5 linked regions of the Homo sapiens genome follow. Changing the gene in region 3 together with the main gene of any one other region gives a genetic interaction. Each region holds a gene or a part of one and is shown on either strand. Other genes may lie near its edges. The genes, in order: BCL2L12, BAK1, BOK, BAD and BNIP3L.

Evidence for each region.
Region 1: changes in BOK (region 3) and BCL2L12 together harm fitness more than expected from each alone (negative genetic interaction), as found in Homo sapiens cells (one large-scale study listed by BioGRID).
Region 2: changes in BOK (region 3) and BAK1 together harm fitness more than expected from each alone (negative genetic interaction), as found in Homo sapiens cells (one large-scale study listed by BioGRID).
Region 4: changes in BOK (region 3) and BAD together harm fitness more than expected from each alone (negative genetic interaction), as found in Homo sapiens cells (one large-scale study listed by BioGRID).
Region 5: changes in BOK (region 3) and BNIP3L together harm fitness more than expected from each alone (negative genetic interaction), as found in Homo sapiens cells (one large-scale study listed by BioGRID).

The regions. Positions count from the first base shown.
Region 1 is NC_000019.10:49,668,548-49,671,956, reverse strand, and holds part of BCL2L12 (bcl-2-like protein 12), read right to left. Parts: intron 3,107-3,409; coding exon 3,020-3,106; intron 2,934-3,019; coding exon 2,842-2,933; coding exon of another isoform or gene 2,793-2,841; intron 1,742-2,792; coding exon 1,469-1,741; intron 1-1,468.
Region 2 is NC_000006.12:33,574,609-33,577,276, forward strand, and holds part of BAK1 (bcl-2 homologous antagonist/killer), read right to left. Parts: intron 1,321-2,668; coding exon 1,185-1,320; intron 834-1,184; coding exon 690-833; intron 1-689. UniProt on the Homo sapiens protein: Plays a role in the mitochondrial apoptotic process. Upon arrival of cell death signals, promotes mitochondrial outer membrane (MOM) permeabilization by oligomerizing to form pores within the MOM.
Region 3 is NC_000002.12:241,561,427-241,565,593, reverse strand, and holds part of BOK (bcl-2-related ovarian killer protein), read right to left. Parts: intron 3,247-4,167; coding exon 3,118-3,246; intron 1-3,117.
Region 4 is NC_000011.10:64,271,529-64,274,863, forward strand, and holds part of BAD (bcl2-associated agonist of cell death), read right to left. Parts: intron 276-3,335; coding exon 85-275; intron 1-84. UniProt on the Homo sapiens protein: Promotes cell death. Successfully competes for the binding to Bcl-X(L), Bcl-2 and Bcl-W, thereby affecting the level of heterodimerization of these proteins with BAX. Can reverse the death repressor activity of Bcl-X(L), but not that of Bcl-2.
Region 5 is NC_000008.11:26,396,533-26,400,699, forward strand, and holds part of BNIP3L (BCL2/adenovirus E1B 19 kDa protein-interacting protein 3-like), read left to right. Parts: intron 1-4,167.

The sequences.
Region 1 (3,409 bases), on a different chromosome or scaffold from region 3:
TGGAAGGAAAAGTAAAGCAGGAAGGGGGAAGGAGGGCGGTGGGAGGGTGTGCAGGTGGCTGTGATTGTCAATGGGGACCTGGGAAGGCCTCGTTGGGGGTGAAACCAGAGCCCACCAGAAGGAGCAGGACGGAGGCAGGGGGTTCCCCGGGAGGGCATCCTGGCAGGCACTGTTGGAAAGGCAGCAGGTAGCCATATAACCTCACCAACAAAATGCCTGCATGCCAGGCAGTGCACAGAGGGCTTACCACATTGACCCCATTTTAACCCTCAGAGCGACCCTTTGAGGTAGCACTACTACTCTCACTATTTTATTTTTTGAGACAGGGTCCCACTCTGTCACCCACACTGGAGTACAGTGGCGCAATCATAGCTCACCACAGCCTTGAACTCCTGGGCTCAAGTGATCCTCCCGGCTCCTCTGCCTCCTGAGTAGCTGGGAGTAAACGTGTGAGCTACCATGCTTTGCTAATTATTATTAATTTTAAAAATTTTTATTTATTTATTTTTTGAGACAGAGCCCCGCTCTTGTTGCCCAGGCTGGAGTGCAGTGGTGCAATCTCGGCTCACTACAACCTCTGCCTCCCAGGTTCAAGCAATTCTCTTGCCTCAGCCTCCCTAGCTGGGATTACAGGCATGCCGGGCTAATTTTGTATTTTTAGTAGAGACTGAATGTCACCATGGTCAGGCTGGTCTCAAACTCCTGACCTCAAGTGATCCACCCACCTCAGTCTCCCAAAGTGCTGGGATTACAGGTGTGAGCCACCGCACCAGGTTTTTATTATATTATTTTGTTGAGACACAGTCTCACTCTGTCGCCCAGGCTGGAGTGCAGTGGCATGATCTCAGCTCACTGCAATCTCTGCCTCCCAGGTTCAAGCGATTCTCATGCCTCAGTCTCCTCGGTAGCTGGGATTACAGGCACCTGCCACCGCGCCCGGCTAATTTATGTATTTTTTTTAGTAGACACAGGGTTTCACCACGTTGGCCAGCTGGTCTCAAACTCCTGACCTCAGGTGATCCACCTGCCTCGGCCTCCCAAAGTGCTGGGATTACAGGTGTGAGCCACCGCACCCGACCCTGGCTAGTTATTTTCAATTTTTGTAGAGATGGGGTCTTACTATGTTGTCCAGGCTGGTCTTGAACTCCTGGCCTCAAATAATTCTCCTGCCTTGGCCTCCAAAAGTGCTGGGATTACAGGCATGAGCTACCCCGTCCGGCCTCTCCCTGAGTAACCTCAGTCACTGGTTTCACGCTCACAGTATTAGCGTACCCAGTCGTTGACGCCAGGCATAGTGTCTGCACTCATCGCTGCAGTCCTGGCATACAGCAAGGGCTCAACAGAACGAACGCAGTGGAGCTGGGAGAATACCTGAGGTCTGAGAGGAACCTAAGAAGTCCCCGCCCCTCCTCTATCACATGACAGTTAGGTAAAGTGAGGCCCGGAGAGAGAGGCTTCAGCGGCTCACCCAGCCCCCGTGGGCCTGGATCCAGGGCGTGAAGCTGTGCACGTGCTCCACGCTGAGTCCGGCCAGGGTGCCCCCCAGCCCGGCCACGCGCCGGCTCAGCTCCATGGCTAGGGCCAGGCGGGCCAGGGGCTCCGGGGAAGGAGGCGGGGGCCCGGGGCATGCTCGGCTTGGGCGAGAGCTGTCATCCCGGCTACAGAACAGCTCCACCAGGCGGGCGAAAGAGTCGGAGGACAGGCGGACCAGCTTGCTGCGCAGGGCGGGGTCCGAGGCCAGCTGTAGGGTGGAAGAGGCAGGGTCCGCGTCAGCAGCGCCCCCGGGGCCAGCCAATAGAGGGCCGGGAGGCGTGGCTTCCCGGTTCAGGATCGTTCTAGATGCTAAGGTTCTAGGCCACCCCTCATCCATATTAGCCAATCAAGCCAGACTCCAGGGTCTCTGCCAAACTACCCCCGGGATAGTGGCCTGGAACGTGAGTCCCTAAGCCATGCCAGGCCCTTGCCTCAACAGCCAATCAGGGCCAATCTCTACTGTAACTGAGTTAATCTAGCCATGCCCCTGGTGACCTTTCCCAGGGGCCAACCTAGTGTCTACAACAATCTTGCCCTCTACCATTCAATTAATATTAAAGGACGATGTACCTTGTCCAAGCTCCGAAGCCAATCAGATTCCAGGACACAGCCACAAGCCACACCTCCTCTGGTAGTACATTTTCCCCTACATTCTAAGCCAGGTCCCTTCTATGCTCAGTAAGATTTTAGCCACTCCCCCCACCCCCACATTCATTCACTTACTTCCCCAGCTTGGCCAGTCTCTTGTGGATAATGTTTCTGATGGCCACACCCTCTGCATTTAGGCCATGCCCCTCTAAACAATCAATTAAAACAACTAATTTACGGTACAGTACTACCCTAACCATACCCCTGTCATTCAACTATTCTTTTTTTTTTTTTTTTTTAAAGACAGAGTCTCACTCTGTCACCCAGGCTGGAGTGCAGTGGCGCAATCTTGGCTCACTGCAACCTCCACCTCCTGGGCTCAAGCGATTCTCCTGCCTCAGCCTTCTGAGTAGCTGGGATTACAGAAGCGCACCACCACACCTGTCCGATTTTTGTATTTTTAGTAGAGATGGGGTTTCACCATGTTGGCCAGGCTGGTCTCGAACTCCTGACCTCAAGTCATCCACCCAACTCGGCCTCCCAAAGTGCTGGGATTACAGGCGTGAGCCACCACACCCGGCCTCAACCCTTCATTGAAACCTTGTCCCAGCCTCTTTCCACCTGACCATCCAAAGAAAATACAGATCCAGCTTCTGATCCCAGTGCCCCACCATTCCGCAACTCCTGTCCTTGCCAAGGAGTGGGACAGATGCCCATCACCTTCTGGTTAATGACTTCTGCCTCCTCCTCCAGCAGGGCCACCAGCCTCCGCAGTATGGCTTCCTTCTCTGTCGATGGGGGACCCTGTAATTCTGGAGGCAGAAGAGAATTTGGCTGGGGGCAGAACCCTGACTATCCTCCCACCGCCATCCTTCTCTGGGGCTCCTCTGTGCCTCACCTGGGCTGGGCGGAGATTTCAGCTGCTCTTGGACCAGCTGTTCCAGCCGCTGGGCCACCAAAGCATAGAAGTCTGGAGTAGCTGGGCCTGGGGTGAAAAGAGTTAATGACAGGTTTCCAGGACATTGGAAACTTACGGATTCTCTCCTTCCCCCAACTACCTTGGCAGGTGGCAATGATTCCCATTTTATTTATTATTTATTTATGTATTGATTTTGGGAAACGGAGTCTCGCAATTCTCCTGCCTCAGCCTCATGAGTAGCTGGGACTACAGGCGCACGCCGCCATACCTGGCTAATTTTTTGTATTTTAGTAGAAATGGGGTTTCACCGTGTTGCCCAGGCTGACCTCAGGCAATCCACCCACCTCAGCCTCCCAAAGTGCTAGGATT
Region 2 (2,668 bases), on a different chromosome or scaffold from region 3:
TCTAAGTTCACGGACTGGATATTTCAGCTCTGAGCACTAATTCTAAAATCTATCACTTACTCCTACCTTCACCTCCAGTTTCAAATCTACTCCGACACTGACTTCCCTAACTCTGGTGGTAGCAATGGCTAACACTTTGTAAGGTGGACACTAATCTAAGCATATTTTCCCTATTTTACAAACCAGGAGACTAAGGGCTAGGAAGCTTCACGAAGGCAGTAAGTGGCAAAGCTTGGATTTGCACCCAAATATTCGGTGTCTTTAACCACTTGGATGCCAGATTATAGCAAGTAGGAGCCATTTCTAGGACCTGGCAGAGGTTAGCACCCTCACCATCTTCAGTGTGATATGTGGTTTCAAATTGGAACTATGAAGGACAGCTATGTCCCAGCTGGGCTGGGGAGCTGTGGGGGACGTCCCCACCTCAGGCCCCCTCTAGAGTCCTGATCTAACCAGTCAAGACCTTGGAGTCAGAGCTCAAAAGAGCTGTGAGCTAATGCCCAAAATACAAGTCTGGGACCCCGAAAGAGAAAAATAGGGGGCCGAGACCACATGTGAGTTCACAGCAGACATTGGACACTGACAGAAGGCTTCTCCCCATGCCAGGAGAGCATCATGCAGGCAGGGTATGGTATGGTTGTGACATGACAGAGGAGTGACTGGAGCTGGCAGGGAGGTGGCTGGGGTACCTGGTGGCAATCTTGGTGAAGTACTCATAGGCATTCTCTGCCGTGGGCTGCAGGTGCTGCAACATGGTCTGGAACTCTGAGTCATAGCGTCGGTTGATGTCGTCCCCGATGATGGCGAGCTGCCGTCCCACCTGCCCCATGGTGCTGTAGGAGCAGGAGGCATGCAGGTGAGCCAGTAACCAGGCAGTCGGGACCAGGCCCTGGCTCATGGCAGAGGGGTTCTGCCTGAGCTGTCCATGGCCCTGTGCATCCCTTCTTGGAGGTCCCTGACAGTGTTCTAAGACATGAGTGCTGGGCTCCAGGAGAAGGGGCAGGCATGGGCTAAAAAGGATACAAGGTCCTGGATGGGGGTGGGAGCCCAACATAAAAGAGGAGCAACCATGAGAGAAGGGCAAGACCCCCGAGGCCTCCCCAGCTCCCAGGACCTGCACAGAGACCCATGCGAGCTACTGCCTCCCTGAAGATGTCCTTGTGGGCCCAGCGGTTGTAGCTCACCTGCTAGGTTGCAGAGGTAAGGTGACCATCTCTGGGTCGGCAGGGGCAGCCACCCCTTCAGCCTCCTGTTCCTGCTGATGGCGGTAAAAAACGTAGCTGCGGAAAACCTCCTCTGTGTCCTGGGCTACCTGCTCCTCTGAGGATCAAAGCTGGGAGTCAGGGAGAGAGGGCCGAACCCTGGCAGCCCCATGCCTTATAGGGGATTCACTCTTCCTAAGGCCATAGCTGTCCTCACCCATGGAAAGAAATATCCCAACCAGGTGCGGTGGCTCACGCCTATAATCCCAGCACTTTGGGAGGCCGAGGTGGGCAGATCACCTGAGGTCGGGAGTTCAAGACCAGCCTGACCAACATGGAGAAACTCTGTCTCTACTAAAAATACAAAATTAGCCGGGTGTGGTGGCACATGCCTGTAATCCCACCTACTCAAGAAGAGGCTGAGGCAGGAGAATTACTTGACCCCGGGAGGCGGAGGTTGCGGTGAGCGGAGATCGTGCCACTGCACTCCAGCCTAGGCAACAAGAGCGAAACTCTGTCTCAAAAAAAAAAAAAAAATGGCCGGGTGTGGTGGCTCATGCCTGTAATCCCAGCACTTTGGGAGGCCAAGGCGGGCGGATCACGAGGTCAGGAGATTGAGACCATCCTGGCTAACATGGTGAAACCCCGTCTCTACTAAACAAAATACAAAAAATTAGCCAGGCGTGGTGGGAGGCGCCTGTAGTCCCAGCTACTCGGGAGGCTGAGGCAGGAGAATGGCGTGAACCCGGGAGTTGGAGCTTGCAGTGAGCCTAGATCACGCCACTGCACTCCAGCCTGGGCAATAGAGCGAGACTCCATCTCAAAAAACAAAACAAAACAAAACAACAACAACAAAAAAAACAAAAAAAAAAAAAAGAAAAGAAATATCCCTACTTCAGCACCTTAGCCGCCCCTAGAGCTTATGCTGTGTGGAGAGTTGTTCCGGCACTTGCATTGAGTCCTCACAGTAGCCCTGGGAGCAGGCAATCCCCAGCTGGCAGGGGGAAAATGGCACAGGGTGTCTGAGTAACGTGTGCAAGGTCATACAGCCAGAACAAGCCGGGGAACCGGGACAGTCCCGGGCATTTGGGGTCCTGAGTCTACATTAGTACATCTCAGCTCCGCAGCCCTTTGCGTGCAGGGAAATGTGGGAAACAAAATCTGAATTTGTAGCTGCGGCCCAGAAAAGTCACACAGGGAGATAGTGACAGACCTGGGACCTGATTCCCAAGTCCAGGGAACAGCCCGCCGTGAGGTGTGAGCTGGGGCTTCCCTGGCTATCCCCTGGGAAGAGGGAAGGAGGGCAGCCATCTTACTTCCTCCCCAAGTCACAATAATTGCGTTCCCTGTTGAGCAGACCTGACTGGGTGATTGGCCAGCTTACTTCCTTATTTCTCCCGCTGGAGGGATACAGCAGCCAGGCCCCACTCTAATTCCTGCCTCCCTCGCCCGTGACCCAGCCCTCT
Region 3 (4,167 bases):
GAGGAGAGGGAGGAAGACCGGGGGTCAGAGCGTGCAGGGATGGCTGGCGTGGGAGGGGCCTCAGGCAGGGAGGCAAGGATGTGTAAAGCACTTGGAGGCTGGAGGCTCGCCCTGTAGACAAAAGGGCCCAAGAGGACTGGGATGGACAAAGGTGAAGGGGGCTGGGGGTGCAACTGCCAGTGGGCCTGAGGGGCAGAAGGGGCGGCCCTGCCCTAGCTCCCTAGTCAGGTGGCTCTGGTTCAGGGAGGTTCAGAAACCCGTTGCAGGTCACGAGGCTCTTGGGCTTCAACCTGCGTGGCTCCCCTCGGGCAGGGCCGCCTCAGAGTAGCAGCAGGTGGGGGTGTGGGGGCTGCCACATGGCCAGAGCCGGGCCTGCGTGGGACAAGCCTGGGGCGCTGGGTGGGGTGGGGGATGCTGACCACAGGGGAGTGGGCTCCGGTTTTCCAGTGAAAACAAGACTTAAACTGAACTCTACACATAGCCCGGGCCACCTGGCCGGTGCCGCCCACATTCCCCGTCAGCTGTGTGCCCGCTCGTCCAGCCATCCCCTTCCCCTCAGCCCTCCCTGGCCCCCAGGTGCCCTCCCAGAACCAACCAGAGCCTTCCTAGGCACCGCCCCCACCTCAGGCCAGGCCCTGCTCAAGCAAGGCCGGGCGGGTAGGGGCATCCTGGCCCCATCCTCTCTCCCTGCCGAAGGGGGAGGCGCCCCACCTCTGGGCAGGCTGCTGCATTCTCAGAAATGACTGTTCCTTTTAAAGCCAGCCTGCAGCTCGTAAACCCAGCGGCCCCGAGACAGACACCCGGGTGGCCACCCACGCGCCGGCGTCGGCCAAGGGAGGGCTGAGAGTGGTCGTCAGCCCAGGATGCCTTCCACCCCTGGCTTCCTTCCGGGGCCCCACCCACTGCCTGCCCCGTGCCTGCCTGGGTCACCCTGGCGGCAGGAGGGGCGGGCACCAGCTTGCCAGCTCCTGCCACCATGCTTCCGCTGCCCACTGTGCCGTGAACCCTGCCCCCTGCCCACCCGGCCCCTGAGCCACACCACCTGCCCACTCCCCAGCCCCTACCCATATGCACCCCCAGCCGACTCAGGTCTGCCCCATGACACGCCTCAGCCTGGCCTGGGCCCGGCCCCCCACCCTCAGCTGCCACGTGGGGGCCTTGGAGCCAAACTGCCAATGAGGATTCATTTACGATCTCCCAAAGGAACACAGGAGCAGTGACAGAGTCCAGGCTCTGAGGCCACCCCAGGAGCGCCAGACAGGGAGTCTCGCCCGCACCCAGCTTGGTTCCGCCTCCTGACCCCACACCACAGCCTGAGGTCACTGCCCCTCCCCAGGTGTGGTCTGAGGCACTCCAGCACATGCTGTGGCAACAAGACAAGCCCGGAGGCAGGACCAGACCCCGCCTGGACTCCCATCCCTGGACTCAGCCTTCCCGCTCCAGCAGCCTGCCAGGTCGCCGCTGCATCCCAGCCACAGTAACTTCTGTCCAGGGAGGTCAGCAGTGAGCAAGCGTGGCACTGGAGAGGCCGGATTCTGTCAGAAAATGCTCGCAGCCCCCGCCGCCTTGGCCTCCAGCCGAGGGTGTCAGCCCCGCTCTGTCCCCATCTGGCTGGCCCACCAGGGGTCGGAGGAGACGTCTGGGAGAGGAGCTGGAGGACACCCCACAAAGGTGGGGTCTGCCTGAGCGAGAGGCAGTGGTCCTCACACTCCTGGCCTCTTCCCCTTGCCCTCCGGTGGGTGGAGGTCCCGAGGCCATCTGAAGACCCCTGGCTCTGAGGGTCACCCCGTGGCGTGGGATGCATCTCCCACAGCGAGGGTGTGGCTTCCTCTGGCGCCTGATGCCTGGCTCCTGCTGCTGTCAGGACTGCCTGGAGACAAGGCAGCTGAGGCCACAGAGATGACAGCAGGCCACAGTCACACAGCTGACTGGCCACGGACCCACACCAGCTCCCAGACAAGGGTGTGCAAGGCCTCCCTGCTGTCAGGGGTCTTCCAAAAAACTGCCCCAGGGGAACAGCATGCCCCTCCTCCAAGCTTCAGGGAATCCTGCGCACCCCGGGGTTCACTGGCCCAGAGCTGTGCCCAGCACCTGGACAGCACTTGGAAAACAGCTGAGGAATGTGCCAATCAGGGAGGTGCCACATCAGGGCCGGCGCACCACTCACCCCAACAGCAGCACCCAGCGCCTGCCACACCCAGGGGCAGCTCATAGCACGGGGTGCCAGGACAGGACCCAAGGTCACAGAGGTCAAAGGCAGGGGGCTGAGGTCTGCAGGGCCAGACCTGATGACATGGGGCAAGCGGACAGAAGCCACACTGGGCAAATCCAGGCCAAGGCAGCTGGACAAGTGGACAGCGGGCACCGAGTAGGGGAGACAAGCCCTAAGCCTCCCGTGGGCCTAGAAGCATGTGGACAGCCGGGAGCAGCAGGAGCAGGGAGGCAGGGCCAGGAGATGCCTCTCCAGGGCAGAGATGGGAGCGCACAGGAGGGTCACAGGTGAGGCAGGCACAGCCAGGTGAGATGCGCTGCTGTTCTCCGGATGCCCTCCGGGAGCCAGTCTGCTTGGACCCCCATGCTCTCCCCTCTCCTGGACGCTGGAGCCCTGAGGCTCGCTTCTGACCATCAGAATCCAGCAGAGTTACCCGTGACTTCTGAGGGTATATCCTAACAGCCTGGCAGCATCTACTCGGGAGCTGTCTGGGAAACCTGCTCCTTGCCACTCCTCCTTGGGACACAGCACCATGCTGTGAGAAGCCCAAGCCCCGCTCGGGGGCCCCTGCAGGAAACCAGGCAGCCCTAGGACGTGCCACCCCACAGGACTGCAGGTCACGCGGCCCCACGGATGCTGGACCACAACTACAACCAATCAAGAAGCCTGTGCCAGCTGCTCAGCATGCCCACCAGCCTGCAGAACCACAAGAGACCCTGAATGCTGTGGTTTGAGCCCACGCTGGTGGCTGGGCAGCTCCTGACACCTGCAGCAGTGAGATGGCACCGGTGGGCACTGGGCAGCGCCAGGATGGGTGGGGGCCAGCTCGTGGGGTCCCTGTGAGCCTGAGCCACAGACCCTGGATCCCTCCCTGAGGTCCCATGGGACGGGCAGGCTGGGCATACCTGCAGAGAAGATGTGGCCAGCCACGGCCAGGAACGCATCGGTCACCACAGGCTCAGACTGCAGGGAGATGTGCAGCTGACGCGCCACGTTGCGGTAGACGCTGGGCCGGATCATCTCCAGCTCATCGCCTGTGTGGTCACAAGAGCAGGTGAGAGGCAGCCCACGTCCCAGCTTCCTGGGACACGACTGGCTTGGGGCACACCCTGCACCTGACCCCCACCTGACCATGCTTGAATTCCAGCCTGTTCCTCACTTGTCTGATTCCCACCTCCACTTGACCCCATCTGACCTCCCTTGGGCCATCCCCCAACCTTGGCCCCTAGGGACCAGAAGACCAAGGAAGTACTGAAGGCGCCCCCAGTCCCGCCCCTCTGACGAGCCAGCCCCTAAGCCTAGCCGGCCAAGCCGGTGGGGCGGGAATCCTGCGAGAGCGTGGGCCGTGCCTGCTGGTGACTCACAGCCGACAGGCAGCCGAGCTGCCCAGAGCAGGAGGGACCAGGCAGACGGCCAGACCCCGACGTGGGGAGGGGCTGGGCAGAGAAAGCACTGGGGTGAGAGCAGGGGAGCCCGACGTGGGGAGGGGCTGGGCAGAGAAAGCATTGGGGTGAGAGCAGGGGACAGCCCGAGAGCCCGGCTCAGGCCCTAGCATGGCTCAGGGACCACTCAGATGCAGAGGCTGAGCCGCTGTCCTGGGCCACCCGCACTGCCACGCTCCCACCTGGGCTGGCTGGGCCGCTGTCCTGGGCCACCCGCACTGCCACGCTCCCACCTGGGCTGGCTGGGCCCCTGTCCTGGGCCACCCGCACTGCCACGCTCCCACCTGGGCTGGCTGGGCCGCTGTCCTGGGCCACCCGCACTGCCACGCTCCCACCTGGGCTGGCTGGGCCCCTGTCCTGGGCCACCCGCACTGCCACGCTCCCACCTGGGCTGGCTGGGCCGCTGTCCTGGGCCACCCGCACTGCCACGCTCCCACCTGGGCTGGCTGGGCCCCTGTCCTGGGCCACCCGCACTGCCACGCTCCCACCTGGGCTGGCTGGGCCGCTGTCCTG
Region 4 (3,335 bases), on a different chromosome or scaffold from region 3:
GCGTGCCTTGGGACAAGGCAGGGACAGACCGGCGGGGGGCGGCCTGGTACTTCAGGTCCTGGCACGCTGGGGACTGGCGCTCACCTTAAAGGAGTCCACAAACTCGTCACTCATCCTCCGGAGCTCGCGGCCATAGCGCTGTGCTGCCCAGAGGTTGGGGGGCGCCGAGCGCGAGCGGCCCCGAAAGGGGCTGGGCTCCTCCCCCATCCCTTCGTCGTCCTCCGTCCCCGCGGGGTAGGAGCTGTGGCGACTCCGGATCTCCACAGCCCCAGCGCCTGCAGAGGGTCAGTGGGTAGGGGGGCGACGTTAATCTCAGCTCCTCTAAGCCCCTGGCCCTGCCTGAACCCTCCCCATCAGCTCTGCAGGCCCACTCGTGGGTCTTCCAGGGGCGCATCACAGCCCACCTCTCAGAGCCCCAGTCCCTTGTATGTGAATCGAGGGGAAGCTCAGGGGCCTTTGGTGAAGATTTAGGTTAACTTCTCATTAATCCCACGAATCCTTACCGAGTGCCAATAATGGGTGAGGCCCTGTGCCTAGCACAAAATAAGGGCATAAGAAATACTAGTTACATCACAAGGTCAGGAGATCGAGACCATCCTGGCCAACATGGTGAAACCCTGTCTCTACTCAAAACACAAAAATTAGCTGGGCATAGTGGCACGTGCCTATAGTCCCAGTTACTCGGGAGGCTGAGGCAGAAGAATCGTTTGAACCCAGGAGGGAGAGGTCGCAGTGAGCCGAGATCACGCCACTGCACTCCAGCCTGGGCGACAGGCTTTTTTTCTCAAAAGAAAAAAAAAAAAAGCAAGAAGTATTATTAGTGCAAGACCTTCATGGGGCCTCCTGGCAACCCCTGGGTTGGTAGCTATTTCATAGTGTCTGTTCTACATCGGAGGAAGCCAATCCCTTGGATAGGAAAGTGTCCTGCCACAGCCGGCAGGATTGAATGCCTCCTCTGCAAGGGACCTGCAGAGCCCCTGGAGAACAAGAACTTGGCCGCTACATGTCCGCATCCCCCACAGAGCCTTCTCTGGAGACAGTGTCTGGAACTGTTGACGTTTTTAGGTACCATTGATGGTGCACTTACGTGTAGGCCGAGACATTCCCTTATTATCCTCCTAACCACCCTGGGAGGTGAGTACCAAACATGCTTAGGTGAGAAGACAGAAGCTTAGAGAGTTAAGACTTGCCCAGTTTCTGTGAAGCTGTGGAGGCCTGAGGCTGGAAGGTTCCAAAGGTTTGGTGGAATCCAGAGTCCAGTGATGATCAGCGGAGCTCTGTGTCTCTCCCCTTGTCTAGCCAGCCTTCGACTCTCTTAGCCTGTGTCCTCACCTTTATGAGGGGATAATCCTAGCCCTGACTCCCAGTGGCTGTGTGAACATCACATAAAATTAAAAAATGTGAAAGTGCTTTGTGGCTGGGCGTGATTCCTCACGCCTGTAATCCCAGCACTTTGGGAGGCTGAGGCAGGTGGATTGCTTGAGTTCAGGAGTTCGAGACCAGCCTAGGCAACATTGCAAAACCCCATCTCTATTAATTTAAAAAATTAATAAAAGAAGGCCAGACGTGGTGGCTCACGCCAGTAATCCCAGCACTTTGGGAGGCCAAGGCAGGTGGATCACCTGAGGTCAGAAGTTCGAGACCAGCCTGGCCTCAAACTCTGGTGAAACTCCGTCTCTACTAAAAATACAAAAATTAGTTAGGTGTGGTGGTTCACGCCTGTAGTCCCAGCCACTCAGGAGGCTGAAGCAGGAGAACTGCTTTAACCCAGTGGGTGGAGGTTGCAGTGAGCCGAGATTGTGCCACTGCACTCCAGCCTGGGTGGCAGAGCGAGACTCTGTCTCAAATAATAATAATAATAACAAAAGAAAAAAGAAAGTGCTTTGTAGGCTGCAAGTGCACTATGGGTTATTATTCAGAGGCCCGCCTACTATGGTCTATTTGAACTGTGCTCTGTGCCATCTCCCAACTCCTGCCAACTCCACTCCTCTACCCAGACCGATAAAGACTTAGAACCACTCCCCTGAGCAAACACTCAGAGTGCAATGACAGAGTGAGAAGCAGGTGGGGGGCTGGGCGCAGTGGCTCACGCCTGTAATCCCAGCACTTTGGGAGGCCGAGGTTGGGGAGATCACGAGGTCAGGAGTTTAAGACCAGACTGACCAAGATGGTAAAACCCCGTCTCTACTAAAAATACAAAAAAATTAGCCAGGCGCGGTGGCAGGCACCTGTAATCCCAGCTACTCGGGAGGCTGAAGCAGAAGAATCGCTTGAACCTGGGCAGCAGAGGTTACAGTGAGCCAAGATCACGCCACTGCACCCATCTCAAAAAAAAAAAAAAAAAAAAAAAAAGAGAGGCAGGTAGGGAAACATGCTGGGTGTTTATGGCAAGATATGTCTGTCAGGGAGGCTCTTTGGAGGAGGTAAATTACAGGCCAGGAACTGAAGGCGGGGGATAACCATTGGAATGTCTCTTCTCCCCTCAGAGGACCTGAGGACCTGGCCTGTGGGCCAGTGCAGGGCCTCCAGGGGTCCCAGCTAGGACACATAAATGAGACACATGACTAAGAAAGCAAGTAGGTGGCCGGGTGCGGTGGCTTACGCCTTTAATCCCAACACTTTGGGAGGCCGAGGCAGGCGCATCACGAGGTCAGGAGATCGAGACCATCCTAACACGGTGAAACCCCATCTGTACTAAAAGTACAAAAAATTAGCTGGGCATGGTGGCTGGCGCCTTAGTTCCAGCTACTCGGGAGGGTGAGGCAGGACAATGGCGTGAACCCGGGAGGCGGAGCTTGCAGTGAGCTGAGATCACGCCACTGCACTCCAGCCTGGGTGACAGAGTGAAACTCTACCTCGAGAAAAAAAAAAAAAGCAAGTAGGCGCAGTGGCTCACGCCAGTAATCCCAACACTTTGGGAGGCCAAGGCAGGTGGATCACTTGAGGCCAGGAGTTCGAGATCAGCCTGACCCAACATGGCAAAAACCCATCTCTACTAAAAATACAAAAAAAGGCCAGGTGTGGTGGCTCACGCCTGTAATCCCAGCACTTTGGGAGCCCAAGGCAGGTGGATCACGAGGTCAGGAGTTCGAGACCAGCCTGACCCACATGGTGAAACCCTGTCTCTACTAAAAACACAAAAATTAGCCAGGTGTGGTGGCGCGAGCCTGTAATCCCAGCTACTCAGGAGGCTGAGGCGGGAGAATCACTTGAACCCAGGAGGCAGAGGTTGCAGTGAGCCGAGATTGCACCACTGCACTCCAGCCTGGGTGGCAGAGTGAGACTCTGTCTCAAAAAAAAAAAGAAACTAGCCAGGCATGGTGGTGTGGGCCTGT
Region 5 (4,167 bases), on a different chromosome or scaffold from region 3:
ACAGAAAAACTGGAAACTCTAAAACACAGAGCGCCTCTCCTCCTCCAAAGGAACGCAGTTCCTCACCAGCAACGGAACAAAGCTGGATGGAGAATGATTTTGACGAGCTGAGAGAAGAAGGCTTCAGACGATCAAATTAGAGTGAGCTACGGGAGGACATTCAAACCAAAGGCAAAGAAGTTGAAAACTGAAAAAAATTTAGAAGAATGTATAACTAGAATAACCAATACAGAGAAGTGCTTAAAGGAGCTGATGGAGCTGAAAACCAAGGCTCGAGAACTACGTGAAGAATGCAGAAGCCTCAGGAGCCGATGCGATCAACTGGAAGAAAGGGTATCAGCAATGGAAGATGAAATGAATGAAATGAAGCAAGAAGGGAAGTTTAGAGAAAAAAGAATAAAAAGAAATGAGCAAAGCCTCCAAGAAATATGGGACTATGTGAAAAGACCAAATCTACGTCTGATTGGTGTACCTGAAAGTGATGCGGAGAATGGAACCAAGTTGGAAAACACTCTGCAGGATATTATCCAGGAGAACTTCCCCAATCTAGCAAGGCAGGCCAACGTTCAGATTCAGGAAATACAGAGAACGCCACAAAGATACTCCTCGAGAAGAGCAACTCCAAGACACATAATTGTCAGATTCACCAAAGTTGAAATGAAGGAAAAAATGTTAAGGGCAGCCAGAGAGAAAGGTCGGGTTACCCTCAAAGGGAAGCCCATCAGACTAACAGCGGATCTCTTGGCAGAAACCCTACAAGCCAGAAGAGAGTGGGGGCCAATATTCAACATTCTTAAAGAAAAGAATTTTCAACCCAGAATTTCATATCCAGCCAAACTAAGCTTCATAAGTGAAGGAGAAATAAAATACTTTACAGACAAGCAAATGCTGACCGATTTTGTCACCACCAGGCCTGCCCTAAAAGAGCTCCTGAAGGAAGCGCTAAACATGGAAAGGAACAACCGGTACCAGCTGCTGCAAAATCATGCCAAAATGTAAAGACCATCGAGACTAGGAAGAAACTGCATCAACTAACGAGCAAAATCACCAGCTAACATCATAATGACAGGATCAAATTCACACATAACAATATTAACTTTAAATGTAAGTGGACTAAATTCTGCAATTAAAAGACACAGACTGGCAAATTGGATAAAGAGTCAAGACCCATCAGTGTGCTGTATTCAGGAAACCCATCTCACGTGCAGAGACACACATAGGCTCAAAATAAAAGGATGGAGGAAGATCTACCAAGCAAATGGAAAACAAAAAAAGGCAGGGGTTGCAATCCTAGTCTCTGATAAAACAGACTTTAAACCAACAAAGATCAAAAGAGACAAAGAAGGCCATTACATAATGGTAAAGGGATCAATTCAACAAGAGGAGCTAACTATCCTAAATATATATGCACCCAATACAGGAGCACCCAGATTCATAAAGCAAGTCCTGAGTGACCTACAAAGAGACTTAGACTCCCACACATTAATAATGGGAGACTTTAACACCCCACTGTCAATATTAGACAGATCAACAAGACAGAAAGTCAACAAGGATACCCAGGAATTGAACTCAGCTCTGCACCAAGCAGACCTAATAGACGTCTACAGAACTCTCCACCCCAAATCAACAGAATATACATTTTTTTCAGCACCACACCACACCTATTCCAAAATTGACCACATAGTTGGAAGTAAAGCTCTCCTCAGCAAATGTAAAAGAACAGAAATTATAACAAACTATCTCTCAGACCACAGTGCAATCAAACTAGAACTCAGGATTAAGAATCTCACTCAAAGCCGCTCAACTACATGGAAACTGAACAACCTGCTCCTGAATGACTACTGGGTACATAACGAAATGAAGGCAGAAATAAAGATGTTCTTTGAAACCAACGAGAACAAAGACACAACATACCAGAATCTCTGGGACGCATTCAAAGCAGTGTGTAGAGGGAAATTTATAGCACTAAATGCCCACAAGAGAAAGCAGGAAAGATCCAAAATTGACACCCTAGCATCACAATTAAAAGAACTAGAAAAGCAAGAGCAAACACATTCAAAAGCTAGCAGAAGGCAAGAAATAACTAAAATCAGAGCAGAACTGAAGGAAATAGAGACACAAAAAACCCTTCAAAAAATCAATGAATCCAGGAGCTGGTTTTTTGAAAGGATCAACAAAATTGATAGACCGCTAGCAAGACTAATAAAGAAAAAAAGAGAGAAGAATCAAATAGACAAAAAATGATACTACAAACACCTCTACGCAAATAAACTAGAAAATCTGGAAGAAATGGATACATTCCTCGACACATACACTCTCCCAAGACTAAACCAGGAAGAAGTTGAATCTCTGAATAGACCAATAACAGGAGCTGAAATTGTGGCAATAATCAATAGTTTACCAACCAAGAAGAGTCCAGGACCAGATGGATTCACAGCCGAATTCTACCAGAGGTACAAGGAGGAACTGGTACCATTCCTTCTGAAACTATTCCAATCAATAGAAAAAGAGGGAATCCTCTGTAACTCATTTTATGAGGCCAGCATCATTCTGATACCAAAGCCGGGCAGAGACACAACCAAAAAAGAGAATTTTAGACCAATATCCTTGATGAACATTGATGCAAAAATCCTCAATAAAATACTGGCAAACCGAATCCAGCAGCACATCAAAAAGCTTATCCACCATGATCAAGTGGGCTTCATCCCTGGGATGCAAGGCTGGTTCAATATACACAAATCAATAAATGTAATCCAGCATATAAACAGAGCCAAAGACAAAAACCACATGATTATCTCAATAGATGCAGAAAAAGCCTTTGACAAAATTCAACAACCCTTCATGCTAAAAACTCTCAATAAATTAGGTATTGATGGGACGTATTTCAAAATAATAAGAGCTATCTATGACAAACCCACAGCCAATATCATACTGAATGGGCAAAAACTGGAAGCATTCCCTTTGAAAACTGGCACAAGACAGGGATGCCCTCTCTCACCGCTCCTATTCAACATAGTGTTGGAAGTTCTGGCCAGGGCAATCAGGCAGGAGAAGGAAATAAAGGGTATTCAATTAGGAAAAGAGGAAGTCAAATTGTCCCTGTTTGCAGATGACATGATTGTTTATCTAGAAAACCCCATTTTCTCAGCCCAAAATCTCCTTAAGCTGATAAGCAACTTCAGCAAAGTCTCAGGATACAAAATCAATGTACAAAAATCACAAGCATTCCTATACACCAACAAGAGACAAACAGCCAAATCATGAGTGAACTCCCATTCACAATTGCTTCAAAGAGAATAAAATACCTAGGAATCCAACTTACAAGGGATGTGAAGGACCTCTTCAAGGAGAACTACAAACCACTGCTCAAGGAAATAAAAGAGGATACAAAGAAATGGAAGAACATTCCATGCTCATGGGTAGGAAGAATCAATATCGTGAAAATGGCCATACTGCCCAAGATAATTTACAGATTCAGTGCCATCCCCATCAAGCTACCAATGACTTTCTTCACAGAATTGGAAAAAACTACTTTAAAGTTCATATGGAACCAAAAAAGAGCCTGCATCGCCAAGTCAATCCTAAGCCAAAAGAACAAAGCTGGAGGCATCACACTACCTGACTTCAAACTATACCACAAGGCTACAGTAACCAAAACAGCATGGTACTGGTACCAAAACATAGATATAGATCAATGGAACAGAACAGAGCCCTCAGAAATAACGCCGCTTACCTACAACTATCTGATCTTTGACAAACCTGAGAAAAACAAGCAATGGGGAAAGGATTCCCTATTTAATAAATGGTGCTGGGAAAACTGGCTAGCCATATGTAGAAAGCTGAAACTGGATCCCTTCCTTACACCTTATACAAAAATCAATTCAAGATGGATTAAAGATTTAAACGTTAGACCTAAAACCATAAAAACCCTAGAAGAAAACCTAGGCATTACCATTCAGGACATAGGCGTGGGCAAGGACTTCATGTCCAAAACACCAAAAGCAATGGCAACCAAAGCCAAAATTGACAAATGGGATCTAATTAAACTAAAGAGCTTCTACACAGCAAAAGAAACTACCATCAGAGTGAACAGGCAACCTACAACATGGGAGAAAATTTTCGCAACCTACTCATCTGACAAAGGGCTAATATCCAGAATCTACAATG